4 linked regions of the Homo sapiens genome follow. The protein of the gene in region 3 purifies or fractionates together with the protein of the main gene of each other region. This does not show direct contact. Each region holds a gene or a part of one and is shown on either strand. Other genes may lie near its edges.

The links.
Region 1: the proteins of RXYLT1 (region 3) and ATP2B2 purify together in Homo sapiens (affinity purification with mass spectrometry; 2 studies listed by BioGRID and IntAct, with this or other methods). This does not show direct contact.
Region 2: the proteins of RXYLT1 (region 3) and RMND1 purify together in Homo sapiens (affinity purification with mass spectrometry; 2 studies listed by BioGRID and IntAct, with this or other methods). This does not show direct contact.
Region 4: the proteins of RXYLT1 (region 3) and CLTCL1 purify together in Homo sapiens (affinity purification with mass spectrometry; 2 studies listed by BioGRID and IntAct, with this or other methods). This does not show direct contact.

Annotation. Positions count from the first base shown.
Region 1 is NC_000003.12:10,334,580-10,341,617, reverse strand, and holds part of ATP2B2 (plasma membrane calcium-transporting ATPase 2), read left to right. Parts: intron 1-913; coding exon 914-1,125; intron 1,126-1,268; coding exon 1,269-1,376; intron 1,377-3,259; coding exon 3,260-3,442; intron 3,443-5,317; coding exon of another isoform or gene 5,318-5,489; intron 5,490-7,038. UniProt on the Homo sapiens protein: ATP-driven Ca(2+) ion pump involved in the maintenance of basal intracellular Ca(2+) levels in specialized cells of cerebellar circuit and vestibular and cochlear systems.
Region 2 is NC_000006.12:151,404,248-151,407,150, reverse strand, and holds the end of RMND1 (required for meiotic nuclear division protein 1 homolog), read left to right. Parts: intron 1-1,314; coding exon 1,315-1,431; intron 1,432-1,883; coding exon 1,884-1,916; 3' UTR 1,917-2,389; downstream 2,390-2,903. UniProt on the Homo sapiens protein: Required for mitochondrial translation, possibly by coordinating the assembly or maintenance of the mitochondrial ribosome.
Region 3 is NC_000012.12:63,782,909-63,789,946, reverse strand, and holds part of RXYLT1 (ribitol-5-phosphate xylosyltransferase 1), read right to left. Parts: intron 4,978-7,038; coding exon 4,875-4,977; intron 60-4,874; coding exon of another isoform or gene 16-59; intron 1-15. UniProt on the Homo sapiens protein: Acts as a UDP-D-xylose:ribitol-5-phosphate beta1,4-xylosyltransferase, which catalyzes the transfer of UDP-D-xylose to ribitol 5-phosphate (Rbo5P) to form the Xylbeta1-4Rbo5P linkage on O-mannosyl glycan.
Region 4 is NC_000022.11:19,232,694-19,239,731, reverse strand, and holds part of CLTCL1 (clathrin heavy chain 2), read left to right. Parts: intron 1-343; coding exon 344-457; intron 458-3,862; coding exon 3,863-4,036; intron 4,037-5,025; coding exon 5,026-5,223; intron 5,224-6,109; coding exon 6,110-6,310; intron 6,311-6,413; coding exon 6,414-6,566; intron 6,567-7,038. UniProt on the Homo sapiens protein: Clathrin is the major protein of the polyhedral coat of coated pits and vesicles. Two different adapter protein complexes link the clathrin lattice either to the plasma membrane or to the trans-Golgi network.

The sequences.
Region 1 (7,038 bases), on a different chromosome or scaffold from region 3:
AGGACTTGGCCAGGTGCAGTGGCTCATGCCTGTAATCCCAGCACTTTGGGAGGCCGAGGCGGGTGGATCACTTGAGGTCAGGAATTCGAGACCAGCATGGCCAACATGGAGAAACCCCATCTCTACTAAAAATACAAAAATTAGCCGGGCGTGATGGTGCGCACCTGTAATCCCAGCTACTTGAGAGGCTAAAGCAGGAGAATCACTTGAACCCAGGAGGCGGGTGTTGCAGTGAGCTGAGATCACGCCACTGTCCTCCAGCCTGGGCAACAACGAGACTCCATCTCAAAAACAAAACAAAACAAAACAAAAAGGATACAGGACTGCATCAGACACCCTATCAGCAGCGTCTACACAGCAGTGCCCTGCCATGTGACAGCTCAGGTGTTAGAATGAAGCCACATGGGAGGGTCCAGAGCCAGCCTAGCCCAGAAGTCCTGGGCTCCATATAGGAATTGGCATCTCTAGTAACAGCCCCATGAGCTTGTAGAGGTCTCAGCAAGGGACATGCTCAGGAACAAGAAGCAGCACTCTCGGGGCAGCGCAAAACCTCCCGCAGGTATCCTGTCCTCGCAGTCCAGAATGAGTTTTCCAGTCTGAGGTCACTTTTTAGAAGCCATGTCGCCCACCTTTAACACAGCCGGCCGTCCACCTTTATCGGGTTTCCACAGAAAAAGTGGAAGACAGTTGCCCAAGGCCTTTCTTCCCCAGAGGAGAAAGGGCTTTGCTGACCCTTCAGTCCTAGTCTCTGACCAGCTGACAGCACAGCCCTGGCCCCCCACTGTCCAAGCATGCCTTGATGTCTTGGGGATTCACGTCACTGCTCAGAAGAGGCCCCCACGAAAGGCCAGGCATCTCCCCTCTGATTCCCCCACCACTGCCTTCAGCCCAGCCCCACTCTCTCACTTGGCAGGCGAGAAGATGTTCCAGATCGACAGCGGGAGGAACGCGCCCCTGCATTCGCCACCCTCAGAACATTACACCATCATCTTCAACACCTTCGTCATGATGCAGCTCTTCAACGAGATCAACGCCCGCAAGATCCACGGCGAGCGCAATGTCTTTGACGGCATCTTCCGGAACCCCATCTTCTGCACCATCGTGCTGGGCACCTTTGCCATCCAGGTAGTGAGGCCCCCACCCTAACCAGGCCCGGGGTGGGCAGCAAGCGGCTGGAGCCCCTGGGCAGGACCCTGAGAGCCCAGCCCTCTGTGCTGGTCCCTGATGGCCTCTCTCTCTCTCTTTCTCTGCTCCCCTGTGACCTCCAGATAGTGATCGTGCAGTTTGGAGGGAAGCCATTCAGCTGCTCTCCACTGCAGCTGGACCAGTGGATGTGGTGCATATTCATTGGGTTAGGAGAGCTCGTTTGGGGCCAGGTAAGTTCCTGGTAGGTCGCAGGAGGTGCCTGTTAGCAGGGCAAGGGAGACAGCACTGGATGGAGAATCCAGGACCCCCAGGAATGGGCTGCCAGACCCCAGGCAAGCTCCTCCCTATCTCTGGACATCTGAGCAAGGGGGTTTGTCCCAGGTCCTATACTGGTCGTCTGGGTACTACTGCTCTGATTTTTGCCTTATATCTATCTACCACTGCTCCTGTTGTTTATGTAATATTTTCTCTCAATCACGTCAGCTTTTTTAACTTAAATTTGTTTTTAAAGGCAACGTCCTGTTACTAAGACAACTGAAAAATCAGTATCACTTGTCATAAATGGAAGCTAACAAAAACATTAATGTAATGAGAATGACATTATTAAACTCCAGCTAGAAGCCATGGCCTGCCAGGGATTCAAGGCTGGAGCAGCTTGTTAGGAAGGGAGATGAATCAGTGGTCTGCGGGCGCTGGTGGCCGGCTGGCGTCAATCAGGATCCTTTAGAGCACTCAGAGGGAACGCAAGCAGGACACACTCTGCCACATTGCGGTGTTACTCAGTGCTGTGCCTGTGGCCATCTGTGGCCTCAGTGCTGTGCCTGCCCCAGCTCTGGGGCTCCTTGGGCTGGATGCTCTTTAGGGGCCCTTCCAGCTTTGTCCCAGAATATTCTCCCACCAATTCGTTTTTCTACGTTTGCCCAAGTTCCAGACCCTGTCACAGCTCTGAGAGCATGCAGCCCAAAGGCTCCTGACCCAGGACACAGGGCTTGGGAGGAGGGCCCAGAACCAACTCAGGGCCTAAGGGGCCTGATTCCCAAGGTGCTCACACATCCAGGCAGTGGGACCCCATGGGTGGGAGGCATTTTTCTTGCCTTCAAGCTGTCTGCAGGCTAGAGTGAGAAGCTACGGGGGCAAAAATTAACTAAAAGATAAATAAGAAAGTTTAGTTTCATCCAAAAGGACTTCCTGTAACCTTTGGGGCTGCTTTGGAGAGTGATAAACCCCTGGGCACCCTGGGGGCCAGGCCATCTTTATCCCACTGGGGCCCACCCCCTACAGGAGGCTCTTGGGGGCTGGGCCCAGTAACTGAGGGAAGGATTCAGAGGACAAAGGTTAATGCCAGCGGGCAGTGCTGACTTTACACTCCCAGGGAGCCCCCTGAGGCTGCATTCATGCCAGCGCCTGACTGCTCCTACAGGAAATGGAAGGGGCCTCTGATATCTGCCACCGCAGCTTTCCTGTAGGGCCTGCGTCTGGGTCCTCAGCCCCATGGACAAGCCTTTTGGGGAAGATTAGGAATGAAGGCATAGCTCTTTCCCATTCTGCCTTCCCAGTCCAGGATTGGCTGCCTTCAGGGTCCAGTGACCTCAGGAGGAATAAGGGACAGAGGAATAAGTAACCCCAGGAGAACCGAGGGCCAGCCACGGGCCAGGCTCATGCAGGACGAGTTAGACCCTCCACCGTGCCCAGTTCTCACCATGCCCAGAGCGGCCCCCACTTTACAGCTAGGAAAACCAAAGCTCGGTGAGGTTAAATGACTTGCCCGAGGCCACAGGACCAGGGTTGTCTGGGGTATTCAAAGCCACATCTGTCCAACTCCTAGAGGCCAAGATTGTCCACTATGTACCCTGACTCTGAATGAATGAATTAAAAAGCAAATTGCACTCCAGCCTGGGCAACAAGAGTGAAACTCCATCTCAAAAAAAAAAAAAAAAAAAAAAAAGACATTGTCAAAGACTGGGCTGAGGAACAGGTGAGGTGGGTGAAGGAGTAGATTGATCACATGCCTGGGTGAGCGGGTAGGAGGAGGGAGGTAGAGGAGCGGGTGTCAGGGAGAGAAGGCCACTGGGAAGGACAGCCCCACCGTCCTGACAGACAGGGTCCCTTGCAGGTCATCGCCACCATCCCGACCAGCAGACTCAAGTTCCTCAAGGAGGCAGGCAGGCTCACACAGAAGGAGGAGATCCCGGAGGAGGAGCTCAACGAGGACGTGGAGGAGATCGACCACGCGGAGCGGGAGCTGCGGCGGGGCCAGATCCTGTGGTTCCGAGGCCTGAATCGGATCCAGACACAGGTACAGGAGGCTCTTGGGGGCTGGGCCCAGGCCTGGCCGGGGCGGGCCAGGGGATGGAGGTGAGTGTGCTTGTGCTGCCCCCCAGGGCCCAGCTCTGGTGCTGAGGGAGGGTGGCTACAGAGGGGTCCCGGCCAGCTCTCACCAGCCACTTGCACACCCACTCCTGTGGCTGCTAAGGAACAGCACGGCCTCCTCAGAGAGGTCCCATTGTGCCCTCTCAGGGCAGCACGGGGAAGTGGTAGGGGTCACACCCACCATGGTCTCCAGGGGGATTTCCCTGAGAGGGTGGGGAAGGGTGGCTCTGAGGGCAGAGGTGAGTGAGGGGACTGTCGCTCAGGGCTGGGGGCACCCACCCACAGGGGCCGTGTGAGGCTGGACAGAAGCTGCAGGCCAGGTCGCCCAGGGTCCCCCAGGGCGTGGTGGTCAGGGGGTCCGCCGCCTCCACGGGGGCTTCAGTTGCTCTCCCCAGCTTCCCCTAGGGGGTGGAGAGGCTCTGGGGAGCAAAGGTCAGTCATCCTCAAGCACACACAGACACACATGCACACACCAAGCACACCAGGGGAGCACAGGTGCAGGGCGTAGCCAGCCAGAAGCAGGTTTCTTCCCCAGAGCAGAGAGAGCATGGCTGCCACGTGGCACACGACACACCTGCGCGCCTCCCCCGACCCCCCCACACACATACCACATGCTCTCACATGGTCCCCTTATGCCTGGAGCAGGTGTTGTAGCTCACAAGTGCTGTCACAGCCCTGCGAGGGGAGGGTCAGAAGGGACTCTGTGGGTCTCTTGCCCAGACCATCTGGGGAGCTGGAGTGGGAGCTCCTCCATGCCCCAGCATGCTTGGGCGAAGTGCAGTGTAGAAGCAGCCACCTGGCCACCATCCTGCCAGCTGTGGCCCAGCACCTCATTTCCATCCGATGTAGCAGAGAGCTCACCTGGGTCACCTCCCACCCCTCTGTACCCTGTCCCAAACCTCACCTCATGTGACCTTCACAGCCCTGGGAGGTAGATGTGACTCCCCCAGTTTTAGAGGTTACCAAGGTCCAGGAGATGGCCCCTTCTACTGAGCTGGCACAGCTGGGGTGGGGACTGGAAGCCGGTTTCAGACCCGGAGGTGCCTGACACGGGCCTGGGCTCACCCTCCCTGGTTAGGGCCCCGCAGCCACCCCTCCCAGCCTGCCCCCACCTCCTGGGAGGTCCAGGACAACTCAGTGAATATGTCCCTGGTGCTGTCACTGCCCTGGCGGCAAAGCCACGCAGGGGTCTCCAGATTACGGGAGGAAGCAAGGACTGCGATTTCTTGAGTGGGCAGGGGCGCCTGTCTTGCCTGCCTCTTGCGGAATGCTAACACGGGTCAGGTGCTTTGCCACTTACAGATAACCCTGCCAGGCAGGTGGCATTGACCCTTCTTAAGAACAAGAAACTCGACTCAGAGAGGTGGCTTGCCCAAGGTCAGCTAGCTAGTAAGTGACAGAGCTGGAATTTAGGCCAAGCTCTGTCCACCTCAGGACCCCCACCACACCCTCTACCTCCACGCCTGTACCTGAGGGAGGCTGAACACTGCTCTCTTCCCTCCAGATACCATGTTTAATCACTGCCTCCCCCACTGGCCAGCCCACTGGCCCCTGAGCCACTAGCACAGGACAAAGGCCGGACCCCCTGTGTCCTCCCGGGGACCCTGGGGCCTGCAGGTGGGCCCAGAGCTGAGCAGACGTTTTTCAGAGCCTTGGAGTGTGTCTGGTATTTTTGTTTTGATTTAAGTGACATTGTCGTTGTTGCCGTGGCTGCGGCTGTTCTTGTGACGTTGCCCTGTCAGTCATGTAGCCGTTGTGCTCGTTCTTCTCGCAACTTGTCTCGTTCTCTCCTCCGTTGCAGATTGAAGTAGTCAATACTTTCAAGAGCGGGGCCTCCTTTCAGGGGGCCCTGCGGAGACAGTCCTCGGTCACCAGCCAGAGCCAGGATGTAGCCAATCTCTCTAGCCCTAGTCGCGTGTCGTTGTCCAATGCTCTTTCCTCTCCGACCAGCCTTCCTCCTGCTGCAGCCGGGCGTGAGTGTGACTCCTTACTGCCTCCGGCTGGCACTGCCCACGCCAGCTCCCAGGCGGGCAGGGGCTGGGGCACCAGAGGACATGGGGGGCAGCCGGTCACAATCAGGCCCAGGGGGATGAAGGGTCCCAGCCACCGAAGAGGGTCCCGTTGGTCAGGAGAGCGTAGCCAGTCATGCGGTGGCAGTCACTCAGTGGACCAGGGTCAGTCAGAGGGTCATTAGGGTCCCAAGTGGCCAAAAAGTCTGGTTCAGTCAAGGGGTCACCCTTGGTCAAGAGGACATCAGTGACCAAATGGTCCCAACCCACCACAGGGTCCCGGCAGCCAGAGGGGGACAGACATGGAGGGGACACAGAGTGTCCCACTGGCCTAGGGTCATATGTGGTCAGGAAAAGCCTGGACCACCAAGGCAAGGGTTGGAGTTGGACAAGAGGTCCCAGTCTTGCAGTCAAAGTCAGCAGAAGGGTCACTGTGGGTCAAGGGGAGCAAGCCCCTTAGGGTCCCAGTCAGTCACATTGGGATCCACCCAGGAGAGGGTCACGTCAACCAGACTTTCCCAGTTGGTCAGGGGGCACCCACAGTAATGAGGGTCATGGTCAAGGGGGACAGTTGAGCCAAGAGGTCACTGCAGGTCAGAGGTCATAGTCAGCCAGGGATCCCCAGGCCACCTAGGAGCTCACAGCCTAGACGCTGCACCCCAGCAGTTCAGAGTCTCTGCCCGCTTCCTGTCACTCCTCCCCTTGCACTTTTGACTGCATCAGCTGCCCTGCAGACACCTTTCCCTGTGGCTGAGCTTGGAACTTGCTGAAGTTCTAAGCCCTTCCTGGAAAGGACAAGGTCCCTGGCCCATTCAGCTTGACCCCTGGTAGAAAATGGTGGGTCGAGCCTCACATCTTGCCTGGGTGCCAGCAGGCCCAGAGGGACCTGATATGCCCTTCAGCATCCTGCCCTCCTTTATCTGAGAGATAGCCTGGGACTGTGGCCCCTCCTTCATCTCCCTCCTGCCAAGCTCATCTCCTCATGCCACCACTTCTGATCTAGATCACTCATTGCTGGCTTTGTCTAGCTCTTTCCCGGACCCATGGCTTCGGGCCCCATAGGGAACAAGTCTGTCTTTCCTCCCATCGCCCTGCTATGTTTCCAGTCAGGCGCTTCTGATCTGCAGGGGAGCCCCTGGTTCTGGTCTTCTCCAATTGGCATAGTGTCAGTCTTAGCCTCCAGCTTCTTTGATGAGAAGTAGACTCCAGCTCACCCCTTGAAACTTTATAAAGGGCCTCTACCCCCATCCAAAACCAGAACACCCACAACACAACCCCTGCAGCCAAGCAGGTAACCCGGTGTGCTGGTGGGAGCGCCTCCCTCAGTGCCTCCAGTAGGAGGCGCGGGCCACAGGGAGCCTGTTGATGGCAAATGTCCACGACCCATAGCGGCAGGACAGAAGCAGAAAGCAGGGAAGGAGCCTCTCAGTGCTCATTCGTCAGCACAGAAACGCAGTGCTGGGGAGGACCGGGGAGCCAAGATGAAATGGAGATGCATTTCAGCAGATGGTGG
Region 2 (2,903 bases), on a different chromosome or scaffold from region 3:
ACAGGATCTCACTTTGGCACCCAGGCTGGAGTGCAGTGGCATGATCTTGGCTCATTGCAGCCTTGACCACCTGAGCTCAAGCAATCCTCCCACCTCATCCCTGCCAAGTAGCTAGAACTACAGGCACACACCACCATGCCTGGCTAATTTTTTTGTAGAGACAGGGTTTCACTGTGTTGCCCAGGCTGGTCTCCAACTCCTGAGCTCAAGTGCGCCTCCTGCCTCAGCCTCCCAAAATGCTAGGATTACAGGCATAAGCCACCGAGCCCAGCCTAGTAAGGCAGTTTAATGCTATGTGCAAAAATCGTAACATGGTGCAGTTAACGCATTCCAATCAACCCCTGAACACGTACCTGTGATTCATCTCTTAATGTTCACTGACCAAACCTGTAACTTCAGCATACCCATGAGACAAACTGTTTTAAAATTTTGCTTTCAGGATTTCCAGTAGCAAGTGATATATAAAGATATTAGGTAGGTATTTAACAGTTATCACATCCAGGCCTGGCACGGTGGCTCACGCCTGTAATCCCAGCACTTTGGGAGGCCGAGGCGGGCGGATCACAAGGTCAGGAGATCGAGACCATCCTGGCTAACATCATCTCTACTAAAAATACAAAAATTAGCCGGGCGTGGTGGCGGGCACCTGTAGTCCCAGCTATTTGGGAGGCTGAGGCAGGAGAATGGCGTGATCCCAGGAGGCAGAGCTTGCAGTGAGCCGAGATCCGCCATTACACTCCGGCCTGGGCGACAGAGGGAGACTCCATCCCAAAAAACAACAACAACAACAAAAAAAAAAGTTGTCACATCCAAATTTTGAATTCAGGGACTTTATTTTCTTTGAACCCCCACAGCCAGCTTGTTTGGAGGCATCGGAATGCAGAACTGTTGCAGTTCAGTTGAAAGCAATGCCATCTAGTGGTGTGTGTACAGCAGGTCAAATGTTAAGCGTAGATTTTCTAGTAGAAAGTAAATTATCTTTAGGTCTTGCTAAAAAACATTATGTTTCAAGTTTGCCTCTTTTAACTGCTAAAAAGGGCAGCTACTAAAAACTAGGACTCAAAAACCTATTTTTAGTTCTTCCATCAAAATCTTACAAATAGAAGAGCTTCAGTATGCAAAGTATTTCTTGCAGTTAAATTTGTACATTACAAAATGTCTCTGGACGGATTCACAAGAAACTGATAATGTTGGTGGCTGCCTTTGGGGAGAGGACTGAGGAGCAGGATTTTTCACTGTATAGCTATAGAATTTTTATGTGTATGACCGTATTAAATTGTTTAAATACATGTTACTGAAATTTTTCTTACATAGGTCATGAATGAAAAACTTCAGCACTGCATGGAACTAACAGATCTAATGCGGAATCACCTGAATGAGAAGAGGGCACTCCGCTTGGAGTGGATGATTGTCATCCTCATTACCATAGAGGTAAGATGGAAATGCTCTGTACTATGATCAGTTACCATCTTTTCACAAATACAGGGGCTATGCTAATAAGATAGTTTGAGATAGAAAATTATTAGCAGAAAAGAGGCTGACTTTGTTATCATTACTAACTCTATTTGGAAGTTTCAAATTACTATTTGCAAATGCATTAAAAGTAATTCTTGAAAAGGTTCCACTTTTTAAAATTTGAGAGTAGACCTCAAGGTTCTGCTTTTAAAGACAGCATTTGGAAAAAGTTCTAGCTGTAAATTTATAATGTACAGCTCAACATCAAATCAAGCACCCGTACCTCCAATTCATAGGTTGCCACGTGAGAAAGGGCAAACATTTACCTTACTTCAGGAGCATTTCTCATTAATCACAATCTTGGAAGTCATTTTAGTTTGTACCCATAATTTGCCCGTCATGAAATAATTCTCACTTTCTATTCTAAGGTAATGTTTGAGCTGGGACGAGTATTTTTCTGATCAAGTGATAACCAAAGTGTCACTGCAAGAGATATTCAAGTTCTACAATCAAAAATTAAATGTTCGGCCCGGCGCGGTGCCTCATGCCTGTAATCCCAGCACTTTCGGAGGCCAAGAAGGGTGGCTTGAGATGAGATCAGGAGCTCAAGACAAGCCTGGCCAACATGGTGAAACCCCATCTCTACTAAAAATACCAAAATTAGCCAGGTGTGTTGGCACACGCCCGTCATCTCAGCTACTCAGGAGGCTGAGGCAGGAGAATCTCTTGAACTTGGGAGGCGGAGGTTGCAGTGAGCTAAGATCACACCACTGCACTCCAGCCAGGGCAACAGTGAGACTCAGTCTCAAAAATAAACAATAAAATAAATAAATAAATGTTCACTACTGGGTGATCATTTAATAGGTGTTTTTTTAATCAAGAAATTATCTTTTTCAGCCCAGTATATCGTGTGAATAAAATTATGAAGAATCTAGTGTTTGTATCTACATCACTGACAATTCAAAAGGTAAATATTTCAGTTAAGAACTTTGGAAAACTAGCATCTAGGAAATCTTGGCAAATCTTGGCAGATACTTCTTAAAGTCACAGGACTTAGGTTTTAGACACCACAACTTAACCTATCCCCAGGGAATCCCATCATGGCCCTGGCTAAGAGAATCATACAGGAACTGAAGTGTTTAAATCAATATATACAGGCCGGGCGCGGTGGCTCACGCCTGTAATCCCACTTTGGGAGGCCGAGGCGAGTGGATCACAAGGTCAGGAGATCGAGACCATCCTGGCTAACATTACACGGTGAAATCCCGTCTCTACTAAAAATACAAAAAATTAGCTGGGTGTGGTGGCAGGCGCCTGCAGTCCCAGCTACTCAGGAGGCTGAGGCAGGAGAATGGCATGAACCCGGGAGGCGGAGCTTGCAGTGAGCTGAGATCATGCCACTGCACTCCAGCCTGGGCATCAGAGAAAGACTCCCGTCTCAAAAAAAA
Region 3 (7,038 bases):
CTTAACAGTACTTACAAATTCTTCCAATATCTTCAAGGTGAGCCGTTACTTCTGATTCACTTTTGGTCAAACAAGGATGGTGAATGTGTGGAAACACTTAAGTTAGTACCCATGTAGTTGTTTCAACTGAAGACTTACAATTGCATAAAAGTTTATTAATTTTGGATAAATTATGTACGCTACTTTTCATGAACCTAACACTTTAATAAGCTGTTTAAAAAAAATCTCATACAATGGTGACCTTTCTTGAATATAGTTCTCTTAAATCCTAAGAGGAAACGGTATTACTCTTTGGCCATAATACCAGCACACCTCATTTTATTGTGCTTCACTTTATTGTACTTTGCAAATAAAGAGTTTTTTACAAATTGAAAGTTTGTGGTGATCCCCAGTCAAGCAATTCTATTGGTACCATTTTCCAACAGCATGTGCTCACTATGAGATGGTGATATGGTTTGGCTGTGTCCCCACCCAAATCTCATCTTGAACTGTAGCTCCCACAATTCCCACATGTTGTGGGAGGTGCCCGGTGGGAAGTAATTGAATCATGGGGGCAGGTCTTTCTTGTACTGTTCTCATGATAGTGAATAAGTCTCACAAGATCTGATGGCAAACTTAATAGATAAATGCTATGTGTGTGGTCTAACTGCTCCACCAACCAGTATTCCCCCATTTCTCCCCATCTCCTTGGGCCTCCCTATTCCCTGAGACACAACACTATTAGGCCAATTATTAACCCTATAATGCCCTCTAAGTGTTCCCTATAATTAATAACCCTATAATGAATGCCCTCTAGGTGAAAGGAAGAGTCGCAAGTCTCTCACTTTCAGGAGTGTCCAAGGGAGAGAATATAGGCATGGATTCTTAGTTTCTGTTTCTGGTTGGGCCAGTAAAACCCCTTCCTTATCCCTCTTTTCTGCTTATTACTAAAGACAGAAACTAAAAGCCATGGCTTCAGGCTGCTAAAAGCCTAAGACAAAACAAAACAGAACAACAACAATAAAATAAGGTGGGTTGGAGAAGCTTGCAACCAAAAGCTAGAAATAGTTAAGCTTAGTGAGGAAGGCATGTCAAAAGCTGAGGCAAGCTAAAAGCTAGGCCTCTTATGCCAAACAGTCAAGGTGGGAATGCAAAGGAAAAGTTCTTGAAGGAAATGAAAAGTGCTACTCCAGTGAACAACATGAATGATGTGAAGGTGAAATAGTCTTATTGCTCATATGGAGAAAGGTTTAATAGTCTGGATAGAGGATCAAACCAGCCACAACATTCCCTTAAGCCAAAGCCTAATCCAGAGCAAGGCCTCCACTCTTTTCAATTCTATGAAGGTTGAGAAAGGTGAGGAAGCTGCAGGAGAAAAGTCTGACGTTGCCAGAGGTTGATTCATGAGGTTTAAGGAAAGAAGCCATCTCCATAACATAAAAATGCAAGGTGAAGCAGCAAGTACTAATGTAGAAGCTGCATCAAGTTATCCAGAAGATTTAGCTAAGATCATTGATGAAGGTGGCTACACTAGACAACAGATTTTCAATGCAGATGAAACAGCTTTATATCAGCAGAAGATGACATCTAGGACTTTCATAGCTAGAGAGAAGTCAATGCCTGGCTTCAAAGCTTCAAAGGACAGGCTGATTCTCTTATCAGGGACTAAATGTAGCTGGGTGACTTTAAGTTGAAGCCAATGCTCATTTATCATTCTGAAAATCCTAGGACCTTTAAAACTATCCTAAATCTACTCTGCCTGTGCCCTATAAATGGAAAAAAGCCTAGATGACAGCAACATCTGTTCACAGCATGGTTTACTGAATATTTTAAGCTTACTATTGAGAAGTACTGCTCAGAAAAAAGGATTCCTTTCAAAATATTACTGCTCATTGACAATGCACCTGGTCACCCAAGAGATCTGATGGAGATGTACAGGAGATTCATGTCCTCATACCTGCTAACAAAATATCTATTCTGCAGCCCATGGATCAAGGAGTAATTTTGACTTTCAAGTCTTATTTAAGAAATACTTTTTGGCCAGACACGATGGCTCACGCCCGTAATCCTAGCACTTTGGGAGGCTGAAGCGGGTGGATCACTTGGGGACAGGAGTCCGAGACAGGAGACCTGGCCAACATGGTGAAACCCCATCTCCACTAAAAATACAAAAATTAGCTGGGTGTGGTGGCGTATGCCCATAGTCCCAGCTACTTGGGATGTTGAAGCACGAGAATCACTTGAACCCAGGGGCGCAAGTTGCAGGAAGCTGAGATTACGCTACTGCCCTCCAGCCTGGATGACAGAACAAGACTCTGTCTCAAAAAAAAAACAACAAACAACAACAACAAAAGAAATACTTTTCATAAGGCTATAGCTGCCACAGACAGTGGTTCCTCTGATGGATCTGGGCAAAGTAAATGAAAACCTTCTGGAGATGATTCATTATTCTAGATACCATGAACATTCATGATTCATGGGACGAGGTCAAAACATCAACATTAAAAGGAATTTGGAAGAAGCTGATTTAAACCCTCATGGATGACTTTGAGGGGTTCGAGATTTAAGTGGAGGAAGTCACTGAAGATGTGGTAGAAATGGAAAGAAAAGTAGAATTAGAAGTGGAACCTGAAGGTGTGACTGAATTGCTTCAATCTCATGATAAAACTTCAACAGATGAGGAGTTGCTTTTTATGAATGAGCAGAGAAAGTGGTTTCCTGAGATGGAATCTACTTCTGGTGAAGATACAATGTTGTGAACATTGGTGAAGTGACAATAAAGGATTCAGAATATTCCAAAAATGTAGTTGATAAAGCAGCAGTAGGGTTTGAGAGGACTGGCTCCAATTTTTTTTTTTCTTTGACTCATTCTGTCGCCCGGGGTTGGAGGGCAGTGGCATGATCTTACCTCACTGCATCCTCTGACTCCCAGGTTCAAGGATTCTTTTGCCTCAGCCTCCCAAGTAGCTGGGATTACAGGTGTGTGCTGCCACTTGCAGCCAATTTTTGTATCTTTAGTAGAGACGGGGTTTCACGATGATAGCCAGGTTGGTCTCGAACTCCTGACCTCAAGTGATCCAGCTACCTCAGCCTCCCAAAGTACTGGGATTACAGGCATGAGCCACTGCATCCGGCCTAGGATTGACTCCAATTTTGAAAGAAGTTCTATGGGTAAAAATGCCACCAAATAGCATCATGTGCTACAGAGAAAACTTTTGTGAAGGAAGAGTCAACTGATGTGGCAAACTTCATTGTTGTCTTATTTTAAGAAATTGTCACAGCCACCCCAGCCTTCAGCAACCACCACCCTGATTAGTCATCAATACACTGATTAGACATCAACATCGAGGCAAGACCCTCCACCAGCAAAAAGATGACTTGCTGATGGGTCAGATAACTGTTAGCATTTTTTAGCAATAAAGTATTTTTCACTTAAGGTACGTATTTTTTTTTTTTAGGCATAATACTATTACACACTTAATAGACTGTAGTACAGTGTAAACATAACTTTCATATGTACTGGATAATAAAAAAATTCATATGACTTGCTTTATTGCAGTATTTGCTTGACTGCAGTGGTGTGGAACTGAACACGCAGTATCTCTAGAGGATGCCTGTAAAATCTCCCACAAATATTTCAGAAGTAAAGGATACATTTGGCTTTCTTTTGGGAGTTAATGTTCTTTGCTCAAATCTTTCACTATTATTATAGTAACAATGTATAATTTTAACCTTAAAGATGCTAACTTTATGAATTTTTAATAACTTTTCTGAAAATTTTATATATTATGGATTAGACTAATATTCCTAACACACATTTACTTTTCAAATACCAAAATATTAGATTTATACACATAATACACATTTACTTTCACACACCCAAATCCAACCATTGTAAGTCTATTTAAGCTCTTGAATGGGATTAGATCAACAGAAGCATGAAGATGAAAGGAAAAATAATCATTACCAATGATAATTTTAAAAACCTGTTTACTTTTTAACTTTGAAAAGATACATGCAATAAAACTGCTTTCCAAGTGTATATAAAGTAAATAAAGAATTAAAGCTGTAGTAAAAATTAGAACAAAATTGAGGTTAACTATAGCTTTTCCTTTCCTGATTTCTGTAGAAAAGACTGAAATTCCAATACAAAGCAGAATCTTTAGTTCACATTTTCCCCCAATAATACAACTGTTATATAAAATAAGCATTTAAAAATAATGTTTTTATTTTTAATTTCAATAAAGCAAAATCTAATAAAATAGCATTTCATATGATAAAATTATAGTTTTCCTAAATAAAATAATCCTAATATACTTAAAAACACTCAGAAAATATGCAGTCATAGAAAAGAGTTATATAAAAAGGCCAAAAAAGTCTAAGCAATACATTGGCTTTATTAAATCTAAAATAAAAAATAAATCCTGATAGAACTCATCAAATTTGTTTTAATAAACAAAAATCTACAAAGTGACAGCAAGAGCTTTGATATCACCTAAATATTTTAAAAAGTGAACATGACTATTACATGAAAGAGAAAAATGAAAATACTTTTAGGTTTACATATTATTCCTCCAAGATACAGAATGTTTTCAATGGCTGTCACCATTCAAACGCTGTAAGATGTGGAGTATGAACTTTTCTATATAATTAGGTAAAAATAAAACAGACATATGATGCCAAAAAGGAGTATTCTGTAATATACAATTTCATAAGGTCCAAGTAAGCTTAATTATGAATACATATTCATGAGATTTACTTCTCTATTCTTTACAAGTTGAAATAGAAGTATTTTTATAAATATATTTTCCTATTATTTTTCTTTTAGTATTTACAGAAAATATTGCAGAGCAAAACATCAAAGGTTAATGTTGCACAACTAATACAACCAATACCTGTACTGTGTTCTTCCTACGATTGACTTTCCTTCTCTCCATTGAGCAGTCACATCGCTGGGATCAAGTAAGCCTTCAAAAATATGCTCCCAGAGATACAAGCCTGGTAATTAACAACAAAAACAAAATCAAAACAATTTACTGTCTCATCTACTTTAGTGCATGAGACAAGTTTACGTTCTGTTCTTTTACTCATTTGACTATAAAACCAGAATGCCTCTCCTTTGGGCCGTTGGCAGGCAGTGCTATCAAGCAACAGCTCCAAATCATCAACATGGCAGCTAATGAGAGACAGAGCTCAGAAGCTGTTAGTGTGTAAAATGTGGCAAAATGTGAGTTAATATTAAAGACCTCTCCTACTCTAGATTTGAGAAACCCCTAATTTATATGGATCTTTACCACCTGTCTTATTCTGAAATGAAATGTATTATATTACAAAGTAAACTATACTATGTGGTTAGAACTGCTTTTATAACAGATTGGGGGAGTTGCCATTTTGTGCCAAATGGAGCCAGAGGAGCTCATGTATGTACATATATTAATACATTCAATATGTCAAGGGGATATTACCTCCTCCTCACTTGAACACATATCCCTGAATGCATGATCCCCTCACAGACAAATGTCATTGCATCTTTTCTCCTTATGGCAGCCCCTGATGTTTTATCATGATTTCACCTGAATGAAAGCTCTGAGAGTAGAGGAGAGCAGTGTTACTCAATGAGGCACTATGGAGACCATACACCACCTCTGGGCACCCTGTTTTGGTTACACTCAAAGAGGTTTTTGTTCCATTCTCATTGTACCCTGGTACTAAAGGAAACGCAAGCCACCACGTTTAAAATGTGGCCAATTAGATAACGCTTTCCAAATGTGATGGGTTGAATAATGTCCCTCTGCCCCACCAGCAAAGATGTCCATATTCTAATCTTTAGAATCTATGAATATGTTACCTTACATGGCAAAAGACACTTTAAAAATATGATTAAGTTAAGGATGCTGAGGTGAAGAGATTATTATAGATTATCTAGGTGGGCCCTATGTAATCTCAAGAGTCCTCACACAAGGGAGGCAGGAGTGTCAGAGTGAGGCAAGGGATATATAAAGATAGAAGCAGAGGTCAGAGTGATGTGGGGCCATAAATGAAGGAATACGGGTAGCCGCTAGAAACTCTAAACGGTAAGGAAACAGGTTCTCCTCTAGAGCCTCAAAAAGTAACACAGACCCCACACATTTTAGAGTTCTGCCTTCAGAAAGGTAGGATACTGCATTTGTGGTAATTTGTTATGGCTGCAATAGGATGCTATGGATTATACAGTTAAGATTATGGTACCTGGAAATGAGGTGCTACTGTAACAAATACTTAAAAATGTGGAAGTGTCTCTGAAATTGGGTAATGGGGAAAGGCTGAGAGAACTGTGAGGACATGATTTTAAAAAGCCTAGATTAGATTGCCTTGAATAACCTGCAGATAGAAATATGGATGTTAATGACTCAGCTAGTGAAGACTCAAGAAAGTGAGGTAGAGTAGAGAAAACCTGTATTGTCTTAGAGGATATCTAAATGATCACAAGCAGATTGTTGGTAAGAATATGCAATGTTTTTTTTTTTTGAGACAGAGTCTCGCTCTGTCGCCCAGGCTGGAGTAAGGTGGCATGATCTCGGCTCACTGCAACCTCCACCTCCCGGGTTCAAGCAATTCTCCTGCCTCAGCCTCCTGAGTAGCTGGGATTACAGGCACGTGCCACAATGTCTGGCTAATTTTTGTATTTTTGGTACAGACGGGGTTTCACCATGATGGCCAGGCTGGTCTTGAACTCCTGGCCTCAAGTGATCCACCGGCCTCAGCCTCCCAAAGTGCTGGGATTACGGGCGTGAGACGCCATGCCTAGAATATGCGTATTAAAGAAATTGCTGGTGAGGGCTCAGAAGAAAATCAGGAATGTGTTATTAGAAACTGGAAGGATGAGGATCCTTGTTATATAACAGTAAAAAGCTTAGTTGGATTGTATCCTGCAGTTACATGGAAAGCAGAACTTGTGATAAACTTTAATAATTAGCTGGAGGGTTCCAAGCAAAGTGAAAGGTGTGGACTGGTTTCTTGGTGATTAGTGAAATATAAGAAAAAAGAGATAGAAGGAAAAACTGTTAAGCAAAAGGGAAC
Region 4 (7,038 bases), on a different chromosome or scaffold from region 3:
AAAGGCAGAGAGCAGAGTTGGAAGGGACAGCAGATTCTGACTGGAGCCCTTTGTTTCATCGGCATCCAGGCCCGGGGAGGGGAAGTGACTCTGCCACTGTGCTGGAACTGAGGCTCCAGGCTGCCTGGCATTGGCCCTTTGTGCCATGCTTGGTGGTGGGCAGCAGGTTATTGGATAATCACAGGCACTCCGACAAGGGGGTTGTTCTGCTTTGGTTGAATGTGACTTTTAGCGTTAATCATCCAGTGTGTGGAGCTGAGGCTCCACTTGCCTCTGTGCCTTGACTAGCACTTGCCCACCACCACAGGCGGTCCCCTTGATTGACCTAAAATCTCTCTTCTAGTTGCACATCATTGAAGTTGGACAGCCTGCAGCGGGAAACCAACCTTTTGTAAAGAAAGCAGTAGATGTGTTTTTTCCTCCAGAGGCACAGAATGATTTTCCAGTGGCTATGCAGGTACGAATGTGCTGCTCTCTAAACATCTTCATGTCCTAAAATCTACTCTAGCACCTCCCAAGATACAGGAGGCTGCCATTTTTAGTCTGCTTCTGCTGTCTCCTGCCACTGTGATGCTTTCAAACCCATTTAGAGGCCTAAGGCTTTGGCGTGTGAGCTGGGAAAGCCCTGTTCGTAGAAAGGAATGCCCGGCATGAGGGTGAGTTAGGGCAGCAGGAAGACGTTGCCAAGTCACACATCAAAGTCCTCAGCTCTTTCCTTCTTATTATAAAAGATTAGATGTTCACTGTGGTATGAGAATATTTAAAGAATAAAATACCTAATGTAGGTGACGGGTTAATGGGTGCAACAAACCACCAGGGCACGTGTATACCTGTGTAACAAAACTGCACGTTCTGCACATGTAACCCAGAACTTATAATAATAAAAAAAAGAATAAAACACTTATTTCCTTTACAATTGGCTGCCATTGAGGGAGCCTAGAGCTCCCAGGGACAGTCCTTTGAGCTGGCATTCAGAATGGCCCAGCCTTTGACACGCAGCCTCTAGTGAAACTAGGTAGTCCCAAGCCCCTGGTGGGAGAATTATTCACCTTTACATCAAGAAGGTTGGGAAAACACCTGAACCTGCATGTGGCATGTGCCTAGCCAGACTTCGAGGAGTTCGTGCTATGAGACCTGAAGTTCTTGTGAGGTTCCCTAAAACAGAAACACATGTCAGCAGGGCCTGTGGTGGTTCCGTGTGTGCTAAGTGTGTTCGTGACAGGATCAAGTGTGCTTTCCTTATTGAGGAGCAGAATATTGTTGTGGAAGTGTCAAAGGCACAGAGTCAGAAAACATTCCTCTGTAGATAAACCAGTTGGATGTAAAATATATAAGAAATCTTGGCCGGGCGCGTTGGCTCACACCTGTCATCTTAGCACTTTGGGAGGCCGAGGCGGGCAGATTGCCTGAGCTCAGGAGTTCGACGCCAGCCTGGGCAACATGGTGAAACCCCGTCTCTACTAAAATATAAAAAATTAACTGGGCATGGCGGTGTGCACCTGTAGTCCCAGCTACATGGGATGCTGAGGCAGGAGAATTTCTAGAACCCAGGAGGCAGAGAGTGCAGTGAGGCAAGATCACACCACTGCATGCCACTGCACCGCGGCCTGGAGCAAGACTTCATTTCCAAAAAATAAATAAATAAATAAATAAGAATAAAAATAAAAAATCTTACAATTTGTTTTATAAAAAATTTAGATCTATACCTTTTCTGAACAAAATTGGCATCACATTATATATGTAAGATTATATAATCTACTCTCCTTTTTACTCTTTTGTTCTCATAAAATATATGTTATCTGTACATTTCTAATAATATCAATAAATGTAACAGCAGGATTAAATATCACCTGAAATCCTAGCACTGCTGATAATTTGGCTACCCCTTTGGAAGTAACTTAACATGCATACATTTGTGCAGATTTATACAGATGGACTCTTATGAAAATGGCTCTGCACTAGCCTTGCTGCTGTATAAACTCCTCTAGCTATGTTGTAGATCATTCTGTTCCAGTAACATAATGTATGTATTTTATTGTCTGTGTCATCTGTTCTGTGGATTTGCTACAACTCATTTAAACAATCCCCTGTTGATTGGTATTTACATTTACAAGAAACACTATAAGGAACATTGTGCTCCATACATCTTTGTATGTTAGTCTAAAAGTCCGAGGATAAATTCCTAGAAATTAAACTGCTGGGTCAGGGGCACACTCTCATCACAGACTCTCCTGACCATGCTGGCCAGTTCACATTCCTACTGATGCTGCCGGTGGTAGCTGGACAGCATCCCATGTTGTGATGTCTTTCCCTTGGTTACCATCAAGGCAGAATTGATGTATCAGCCACTCATATGTATCCGGTTAATTGCCTTTTCCTAATCTTTGCATTTTTTTTCTATTGGGATCTTTTTTTAAAAAGTAGAGATGGGGTCTTGCTATGTTGCCTAGGCCAGTCTTGAACTCCTGGCCTCGAGCGATCTTCCTGCCTCAGCCTCCCAAGCAGCTGGGGTTACAGGTGTGTGTCACTGTGCCCAACTCCAGGATTTTTACCTTATTCGTAAGAGCTTTTTGTACTTGTAGAGTACTAAGTGTCTGATGTATTTTGAATATTTTTCCCAGTCGTAATTTGTGATATGTGGCACCTTATGGAAGTGCTGCATTTTTGTGTGGCAGTGGTATCATGTTTTGAGACTAATTCTGCACCTGAAGATGATCACAACATTTACCTATATTTTCTTTCATTCCTATCCTAATTGTCCTTGTTTTTTATTTAAAATCTTTGACCCATCTGGAATTTACTTTGATCTAAAGAGTAAGATAGAAATTCAGTTCTTTACTCTTACCTCCATCTCCAGATAGCTAGCTAACTATATTAATAATATATGTTATATATTGATTAAAGTGCCTATTTTCCACTAATATGTTACCTACTAATTATTTATTTTTCTAGAGTTGGAGTCTTGCTACGTTGCCCAGGTTTGACTCAAACTCCTGGGCTCAAGTGATCCTCCTGCCTTGGCTTCCCAAGTAGCTGGGACTATAGTCATTAGCCACCACACACTCATTCTTAATAAATTCTCATATATGATTCATTCTCTTTCAGGGCTCTTAATTATTTTCTCTCTCTGTCTCTTCCAGTGGTAAAATCATACTTCAAAAATTACTGTCTGTTTTAATATATATGTTTAATAATCTGGTTGGGCAAATGCATCTGTTTTTTCTCCCCAGCCCCTTCAGGTTTTCTTGTGTGTTAAATATTTTTCTGTAAAAGTTAATAGCATTTGGCAAAACTCAAAGGTTAATAAGTGGTGGTAGAAGGCATGCTGGAACATCATCTTGGCGTTTGAGGTCTTTGTCCAGAACTTTCCCCTTCTCTTATGAACTCACAGCTTGCTTAAAGGGGTTCGATAAACTGTGAAAGGATCGCTCTACCTGAAAGATAAATGGAGTAGCCTGAGTTTATTGGACCTTTATTTGAGAGTGGTTGGACAAAATATTGTCTTTAAAACTAATTCTCAATCAAGTACAACTTAGAATCCATGTCTCAGGAAAGCATTGCTCCCACCAGTAATCTCTCGGCCTGAGAAACTGAAGAATCCTTGTATAGCTAGGTGTGGCAGCTCACACTTGTAGTCCCAGCTACATTGGAGGCTGAGATGGGAGGATCACCTGAGCCCAGAGGTCGGAAGTTGCAGTGAGCTATGGTGGCACCACTACACTCCAGCCTGGGTGACAGAGCACGACCCTATCTCAAAAAACAAACAAACAAACAAGAATCCTCTTTATCATTTGTGAGCTCTTTTTACCCGCATGGCTTCTCCTCCTTACTTTCCAACCTCTTGCTCTCTGTCTTCTTATAGATTGGAGCTAAACATGGTGTTATTTACTTGATCACAAAGTATGGCTATCTTCATCTGTACGACCTAGAGTCTGGCGTGTGCATCTGCATGAACCGTATTAGTGCTGACACAATATTTGTCACTGCTCCACACAAACCAACCTCTGGAATTATTGGTGTCAACAAAAAGGGACAGGTGTGTAACTCTGACATTTCATTTTCTACCTTTTCCATTCATTAGGGACTGGCGTTTAAACTTTCCCCCTTCTCTAGGAAAGCAGCTGGGTGTAGCTATTAATAGTTCCTGTTATTAAACTTAAACCCATGTCTCCTCCTTCATATTGACACTTCCTCTCTTCAGACAGCACCATTCCTAACACAGGATTGATTCCAGGAGGAGAGCAGCTCCTTCCTGCGTATAGAACAGCAGTTCTGATGCACATCATCTTTATACCATGCACACCCTAACTGGGGAGGGTTGAAAAAGCAGATACTATGGTATTTAAGTAACTTTTCTCAACCATAGTTGAAAAAGATAGTTAAAAGAAGAAACTCTTGGCTGGGCACAATAGTTTATGCCTGTAATCCCAACTGCATGGGAGGTTGAGGCAGGAGGATGGCTTGAGCCCAGGAGTTTGAGGCTGCAGTGAGCTGTGATCACACCATTGCACTCCAGCCTGGGTGAAACAGTGAGAGCCTGTCTCAGGGGAAAAAAAAAAAAAAGTCGGGAACAGTGGCTGATTCCTATAATCCCAGCACTTTGGAAGGCTGAGACAGGAGGATTGCTTGAGGCTAGGAGTTTGAATCCAGCCTGAGCGACATAGTAAGACCCTGTCTCTACAAAAATATTTTTTAAAAAAGAAAGAAACTCTGTACTTTAAAAATAAAAAGTTTAAGAAGAAAAATTGTCAGTTCCATCCACATAGGTCATTTTGCTGTAGCGCAGAACGCATCACACTTATCTGTGTGACTTTAATAACTACATAGACTCCTATGCTGTTCTGTTTTGTTACCATTTGGCTTTCGGCTGCTTTGCCTCCTTTCACTGTGAGGGCCACCATCACAGGTGTGCTCAACACTCGCCTGAGAATGTGGCTACCACTCCAGCATCGGAAGGGAACATGGCAGAGGGATGGTGGAGCACTCTTCTAGGCCGGGCTGCTCTCACTTGTTGTGTCCTTACAGGTACTGTCAGTTTGTGTTGAGGAAGATAACATTGTGAATTATGCAACCAACGTGCTTCAGAATCCAGACCTTGGTCTGCGTTTGGCCGTTCGTAGTAACCTGGCTGGGGCAGAGAAGTTGTTTGTGAGAAAATTCAATACCCTCTTTGCACAGGGCAGCTATGCTGAAGCCGCCAAAGTTGCAGCGTCTGCACCAAAGGTGATAAACCTTGAATACTGTTCAAGTGTTCTGAGTGTTAAGAACCAACCTTGAGAGGAAAATAAGTCATAAAAGCATTTCACTAGTGATATTGCAGTCTATTAGTGTTATGTTAGGAGTTTTTAGTTTAAAATTTTTGCACCAATGGCATAACAGTAAAGGAAGTAAACAAAAAACACACTCTTGCTGCATCGGCACTTCTTCACGCCTCCCACTTTGTGTGCATACGTACCTCTCACCCAACAGCTTAGATACAGTTTCACATTTCTGTAACTTAGCATTTTCCACTCTTGCTACCTGGTTGTCAAATATGCAACTGTACAATACATCAAGTGGTTGTTCCCTGTTTTATCTAGCGATAGTCCTACCCTGGACTTTCTCCACTCTTTTAGAATATAGCATTTCGGCATATGGCTTTTTCTTGGGTTTATTTCATTTGGATAAATTGTTCAGAGACTGGATCTGTTCCTGAGTAGATAAAGACTTTCAAGTTGCTTGTCCTTGAAAGAATTTTTCTTGTCTTTCAAGGGGTAGTTGTGAACAAACCATTTCTAGCCTTCATCTGTGAATTTGAGTATTTTGAATTAGAATATAATGATAGCAGAACTTCACTACTACAAGACTGATTGAGAGGCCGAATTCTTACTGCAGCATGCTGGGGGAGAAGTAAGACCCTAAGTGTGAAGCCACCTGGAGGACCTAGATTCCCCTATACTTATGGTTATTGTTGAAGATAGAAGCAGTTGCCTTGGTAGAGGACTTTTTGTCTATGACAGAGCAGTGTGGAATTTCCACTGGCAGATTTTTGTTTTTACATACAAGGAAGTTGAGTGAAGGGATCCCCTGTGATTACAACACAATGACCTATTTTTCCATTTATTATTAGGGAATCCTGCGTACCAGAGAGACGGTCCAGAAATTCCAGAGTATACCCGCTCAGTCTGGCCAGGCTTCTCCATTGCTGCAGTACTTCGGAATCCTGCTCGACCAGGGTCAGCTCAATAAACTTGAATCCTTAGAACTTTGCCATCTGGTTCTTCAGCAGGGGCGTAAGCAACTCCTAGAGAAGTGGCTGAAAGAAGATAAGGTAGAAACACTTGTGAGCTCGTAGCCCCCCCGCACAGCTTGAAAACTTGGTCCAGGCTCCCTACCTGCCTCCTAACTTTGCCTTGTCCCTTGGCATACCACAGCTGGAGTGCTCAGAGGAGCTCGGAGACTTGGTCAAAACCACTGACCCCATGCTCGCTCTGAGTGTGTACCTTCGGGCAAATGTGCCAAGCAAAGTGATCCAGTGTTTTGCAGAAACAGGCCAATTCCAGAAAATTGTGCTCTATGCCAAAAAGGTAACGTGTGTTGAACCACTGGCATCTCACAGATTACTCACGTGTGGTTGAGTGGTTGCTGATTTTAAAGTTTATAAAATACCCTTCTTTGTAAGTCCTCTGGTGTGAGAGTTGGCAATGTTGCTGTTAGGATCTTTATTCATAATGATCATATTTTATTCTCTTCAGCTTTTTATTATCCTTAGTTTTCCAGTCCTTCCATCTTCGTTTTATTTGGGAGCTTTATCTTGTTTTTTCTCTCCCTCTCTTCCTTCTGTATGTTAATTTGATATTTTGGCAGACTCCCAGATCTTATCCCTGTGTGCTTACTGGCAGGCTGTGTTTGCACACAGATCAGGAAACTTCTTTGTGGTCTGGGCTCTTTGTATAGTTAATTGTGCCTTCCATGTACATTAAATCAATTCATTTAATTGGATATTGTGTTTGGCAGAAGGTGGTACCTACACATGATAATGTTGCTGCTCATTTCTTT